Linked DNA regions of Homo sapiens: region 1 is linked to region 2. The links come from fine-mapping of genetic effects on plasma protein levels. A gene starts in region 2. The other region holds a variant in brackets. All regions are shown on one strand. Distances are between the middles of the regions.

Region 1 (2,903 bases), 10 kb before region 2:
CTCCCCCTGGCGGTAGCTTTTGGGGCTGCAGGTGCCAAACTGCAGGTACAGGGAGAAAACACTAGAACACTTATTTATTTTCAATGTTACCACTCTTTTTTGTTTGTTTGTTTGTTTTTTTAAATTGAGATGGAGTCTTGCTCTGTCACCCAGGCTGGAGTGCAGTGGCACAATCTTGACTCACTACAACCTCTGCCTCCCAGGTTCAAGCGATTCTCCTGCCTCAGCCTCCCGAGTAGCTGGGGTTACAGGCACCACCACACCTGGCTAATTTTTGTATTTTTAGTAGAGACCAGATTTCATGATGTTGGACAGGCTGGTCTTGAACTCCTGACCTCGTGATCTGCCCACCTCGGTGTCCCAAAGTGCTGGGATTACAGGCGTGAGCCACCGCGCCCGGCCACCTGTTTTATAATTCGGGGTTCTGAGGTGTGATCTAGAGCTTGAATTAATACTGTTGTAGTGCATCATGTCATTTCTATACATATTCATAAAACAGGTAGAGGCAGCAACATTTTGTTGTTGTTTTGATTTGTTTTTTGTTTCTTTGAAACCAGGTCTCCCAGGCTACAGTACAGTGGCACCATCATAGCTCACTGCAGTCTTGACTTCCTGAACTCAAGCAATCCCCCTACCTCAGCCTCCTGAGTAGCTGGGGCTACAGGCACACGCCACCCTGCCCAGCTAATTTTTGTATTTCTTGTAGAGACAGGGTCTCCCTATGTTGCCCAGGCGGGTCCCAAACGCCTGGGCTCGAGCTATCTCTCGCTTTGGCCTCCCAAAGTGCTGGGATTACAGGTGTGAGCCACTGTGCCCAGCCCATCAAGATTTTTTTACTGTTAGGGGTGTGAGACTCTCCAAACCAGAAGCCAACAATGTGAGCCATCCTTGCTTGAATGCCCCAGGGAGAGGCCCTTGGCTAAGCACCTGACGTGTACGAGACATGTTTATAATTGGGCAAAGCACAAAAAACTATAAAAAGGTGCCCCTTCCTTAAGGCACAACATCTACTTGTTGGACACGTGTCATAGTGTATGGATTTTGTTAGATGAAGTCACTTTGGAAACTCGCTCATAACCAATGTGAAATCTGGGGTGCCTATAGTGCACACAGAGTCCCTTCAGCCATAGGCTCCTTCCACATCACACATGGGATGGCCCTGAGAGGAGGTCACTGCCACCGCACTGCAGACCTGAGAGGGCAGACCTGAGAGGGCAAACCTTTTCTGGCCCCTGTTTGACGGAAGGGGAAACTGAGGCAGAGAAGACGTGACTCACGGCAGGTCATGCAGCAAGGAGGCAGTAGGCCAAGCCCTGGCCCCGCATTGCTGGAGTCCCCGCCTGAGCTCTTGGGCACGCAGCTCTGCTCCTCTGCTGAGGACACCATGCCCGTTCCACCCGCCCATCCTCCTCCCAGGATGCTCGCATCCGCCTACCTGCGTGTAGCAGCGCAGGAGTAGCCCCTTGTCCTTCAGCAGG[C/T]GCATGAAGTAGTGACAGATGGTTGGCTGCAGGGAAGAGCGACAGCACTGCTGACGACTGCAGGGAACAGCCACAGGCCACTGCCGCATGCCAGGAACTGTTCTAGGCACTGTGACTGTTTTACCCCCAGGGAACCGTCACAGCAGCCGCGTCGGGGAGAGACCACTGCTATCCCCAGATCACAGATGAGGAAACTGAAGGACAGGGAAGGGGATTGTGTTGCCAAAGTCACACGGTGGGTAAGCTGCAGAGCTGAGATTCACACCCAGGCAGCCCGGCTGCAGGGTCCCGGGCTCTCAACGGCATCATTAGTCAGCTAAGCCTCGCAGCAGCCCTCTTCAGACAGTACCATTAGCTTCACTTCACAGGAGGCAAATCGGAGGCTCAAGGTCGTAAGATGAAGACACGAGGAACCAGGACTTGAACCGAGGCAGTCTGGGCCCAGCACCCATGTACTTAATGGCTACATAATATTTGTCTGCAGGGCCTTGGCGGGGCTTCTCATGCGTGCCCTCCCCCAACCCTTCCTGTTTCGCCCCCTGCAAAACAAAGATCTCACCTTGAACTGCCCAGGATAGAGTTCCTTGGCGAGGGCGAAGAAGGGTTCCGGATGTTTCTGTAGGAGAGACAGCCAGAGGGCCAGATGCCCCAGGTAGCGTGAGGGTTGGAGCCAGGTGACCCCATCCCCACCCCTCACAGACGCCCCTTCCTGGGGGAGCACAAACCTTGAAATAGCTGATCTCAAAGATGGCCTCTGGGTAGGGAAGATGGTACTTCTCTAGGTTGTCATAGAGGCCGGTGGATGGAGAGCGAAAGTCGGGGATGCCTGCGGCTAGGAAAGGGGGGTCAGGGAGCAGTTGGTCTATACCATACTAACCCTCCCAGGACAGGGCTCAGATAGGGCTCCTCCCCAGCCCTTGGGAGGGACTCCCCAGTTCCTGGGGGTAGCTGCTGGGGGAGAAGGGTTACTTACATGTGGAGATTCCAGCTCCCACCAAACAGATGACTCTGCGACCTGGAGGAGAGGAACTTATGCACCATATGACACCGTTTGCTCAGTCCCTACGATAGCACCACCCATCACAGCCCCTGACATCGTTTACTCCATGCCAGGCCCTGGGGCAAGCATCTCAGATGCATGACGGGCCTTCCAATCATCTAGACGGGGATGGTGTTAACATCCCCATTTTATAAATGAGAAAACTGGGGCTCAGATAGGGGAAGAAGTCACACAATCAACTGCGGAAGAGCCAGCCAGCGGATAAAGAATCCAGTGTTGGGCTGGGTGCAGTGGCTCATGCCTGTAATCCCAGAACTTTGGGAGGCTGAGGCAGGCGGGTCATCTGAGGTCAAGAGTTTGAGCCCAGCCTGGCCAACATGGCAAAACCTCATCTCTACTGAAAATACAAAATTAGCCAGGCGTGG
Region 2 (2,903 bases):
GATGGCAGGCAGTGGCAAGGAAGAAGGAAAGTTTGGGAGGACAGGCCTGGACTTGAGGCTGGAAACTCTTCTCTGACAATCCCCAGAATCTGCCTTTCCCCAGAAAGCTGCACTGGGTGGTGTGAGGGATTGGGGCAATGAGCCGAGGGCCCTGGGGTGACTGTTTCCCCTTTGCCACCTCCCCCCAGTGTGGGATGTGGAACAAGTCCGTCTCTCTCCTCCCCTCCACCCTTTCCCCCATCTCACCTGAGCCTCCTGCACCTTCCCTGCCTGGGTCTCCAGAGGGTGAGAGGCTGGGGGAGGGGAGCAGAGGTGGTTACAGTGGGGAGAACGATTAAGGGGGGAATAAAGGGGTTCAAATGGTCAGTGAGGGGGCAAGAACACCCACCAACCTAGTTACACTGGGATGGGATGGTGGTAAAAATGGAGCAGAGGGAGGGAGGGGACGGAGAAAAGATCTTATCTACATGCAAAGTGATGCCGGGAGAGGTGATTAGTGAGGGGCAGAGAGGCTGGAGAGGAAGATTTAGGGGGACAGGGAGAAAGTAGGGGCTTTTGCCCAGGCTGGTCTTGAACTCCTGGGCTCAAGCGATCCAACCACCTTGGCCTCCCAAAGTACTGGGATTACAAGCATGAGCCATTGTTTCTGGCCCTGACTTACTTTCTTTCTTTTTTACTTTTTAGAGAAAGGGTCTCGCTCATGTCACCCAGGTTGGAGTGCAATAGTGCGATCATAGCTCACTGCAGCCTCAAATTCCTGGGCTCAAGCGATCCTCCTCCTCCTACCTAGGGGATTCAGGGCATGAAGGAACACTCAGGAGGAGTTAGGAAGGACACGACAGTGTGTGAGTGTGTGTGCGGGGAGGGTTAGATTTACAAGGCAGAGGGAAGTTTAGAAAGGAAAAGAGAAGGGAAGAGACGCTTTGGCTGGGAGGCAGGTTTAGGAGGGAGGTGCAGTGGTGCAGTGGAGGCGGTAGGTTTAGGAGAGGCGCGGAACAAGGGGAAGCCATAGGAGGGGTCAGCAGGGGTCCCTCAGCATCCTCTGGTTGCCTCTAACAATCAGGTACCCATAGCAAGCGGGACCGGGGCAACTTATGTTCTTTGCAGCGAGGGACCTTAGCAACCAAGGTGCGAGAAACACGCGATCATTGGCAACTTGGCAAGTGGATGTGGTAAACGAACCCTGAACACACTGCGACCCAGAAACCCACCAGCCTAGCGATACAGATCGCTAAGCAACAGCCCTCAGAATCCCACTCCCCGAAGCGCTCCCTACTTCCCGCCCCACCGCGGCCACCCTTGGGCCCCGGGGCCTGCAGCATTCAGCCAGGCCCCGGCGCGGCCCGACCCTCCTACCCGGATCCCCGACTCACGGTCTGGCTCTGCCATGGGCGCGGTGCTGAAGCCCTTGAGGCTGTCACCGACCGCTCTGTCCCGTCACCAACCACTGTGTCCCGTCACCGACTGCTCTGTCCTGTCACCGACTGCTCTGTCCCGTGACGGCACCAGAAATGGGAGTGGCCGTGATAGGGCACAGAACTACAACTCTCAGCAGACATTGCGGCCGCAGACGCGCTTTCGTACAACACCCAGAGCGCCCCAGTTAGGTAAGAAAGCGCGCGAGGACCGGACTACGAGTCCCAGAAGGCGTGGCGTCAGCAGCCATGTTGGTAAAGGGCGCCCGGAAAATGTGGGAACGGCTAGAGAGTTGTAGTCCTCCCGAATACTCTGATTGGTCAGGATGCAGTACGAGGGCGGGGTGTGAGCGATTCAGCATATTATCATTGGGTGAATCAGGGGGCGTGGTGGGGAATTTCCCGCAGGGCGGAAGCTCCAGAACTCCCGGCAAAGCCCAGCTACAGGCGGGCGACTGCGGGGGGCCCCTGAGGCGGCGGGGGCCATGGCTGGGGTCGCGTGCTTGGGAAAAGCTGCCGACGCAGATGAATGGTGCGACAGCGGCCTGGGCTCCCTGGGTCCGGACGCAGCGGCCCCCGGAGGACCTGGGTTGGGCGCGGAGTTGGGCCCGGGGCTGTCGTGGGCTCCCCTCGTCTTCGGCTACGTCACTGAGGATGGGGACACGTGAGTGAACCTTAGGCTGCCAAACGGAGCCCTAGGACCCGGCGTCACATTCCTCATTAATCTCTGATCCCTGAGGCTTCCTAACCTCATACTCCTAAATCTGACTTCCGATGCTGAACTTCCTGACCTCTAACCCCCGAGTCCTAACTTTTAACAAAACCAATCTTCTATCTAGCTATGATCCTAACCCAATCATTTCTTACCTTCTTTTCTTGAACTATGATTCTCAGCTCCTGGAATCCACATTGTATCCACTGATACCCAAACCTGACTCCAGTCCTGAGACTTCTGTTAGAACTGTGGCTTCTCCTGACTTCTAACCTCCAAATATGATCTTTGATTCTTAGTTCCCGATTTGAGCCCTAGAGTTTGATTTCCGAAATTAATACTTGGTCCCTGACTCTAAGATCCTGTCTTCTGAGCAGTGTTCTTCAAATCTTAAATTCAAAGAGAGAGAATGTAAGCTCTTCTATGTTGAATTCCTAATTAAAGTAAAAAAATAGGAAAATTAAAAAAAAGAATGTTAGCTCCATGAGACCAAGGATTCATCTGTTAAACAAATATTCTTTACACATTACCACGTTCCAGGCTCCGTTTAGGTGCTAGTGATAAAGGCAGTGAAGAAAACAAACAAAAACTTAAGCCCTTGTGGAGCATACATTTTAGTGGAGCTAAATAAACAGATTGATAAGACCACAAGGAAGGAAAGAAATGGAAAGACAGGAAGAAACAAAGAAAGACACGCAGAAAGAAAGAAACATAGAAAGTAAGAAAAGGAAATAAAGTCAGAGGTAGTTAAGTACTTTGGAGAAAAATAAAGCAGG

Direction of the effects. Alleles are on the strand shown, and positions count from the first base shown. The strength of an association depends on the size of the effect and on how common the allele is.
For the plasma level of the protein whose gene starts at base 1,486 in region 2, T is the low allele of the variant in region 1 and C is the other (moderate association).

The links. PIP is the chance, under the fine-mapping model, that this variant and not a neighbour inherited with it causes the effect. Protein levels are from antibody-based Olink assays in UK Biobank. Linkage for the fine-mapping came from a reference panel and not from the study's own genotypes, which makes the PIPs less certain.
Region 1: its variant is fine-mapped to the plasma level of the SIRT2 protein (UK Biobank, PIP above 0.99). The variant lies in the coding sequence of SIRT2. If it changes the protein, the assay may bind it differently, which can mimic a change of level.

What each region holds. Positions count from the first base shown.
Region 1 is chr19:38,887,652-38,890,554 of GRCh38, forward strand. SIRT2 (sirtuin 2) reads right to left here. Exons shown (of 16, transcript NM_012237.4): 5 at 2,452-2,493; 6 at 2,204-2,310; 7 at 2,038-2,094; 8 at 1,436-1,504. Among named protein-coding and RNA genes, the nearest start is that of SIRT2, 11 kb to the right of the region's middle. The variant C/T (reference allele first, on the strand shown) is at 1,479.
Region 2 is chr19:38,898,133-38,901,035 of GRCh38, forward strand. SIRT2 (sirtuin 2) reads right to left here and starts at 1,486. Exons shown (of 16, transcript NM_012237.4): 1 at 1,374-1,486; 2 at 247-293. The coding sequence starts at 1,389. NFKBIB (NFKB inhibitor beta) reads left to right here and starts at 1,837. Exons shown (of 6, transcript NM_002503.5): 1 at 1,837-2,079. The coding sequence starts at 1,901.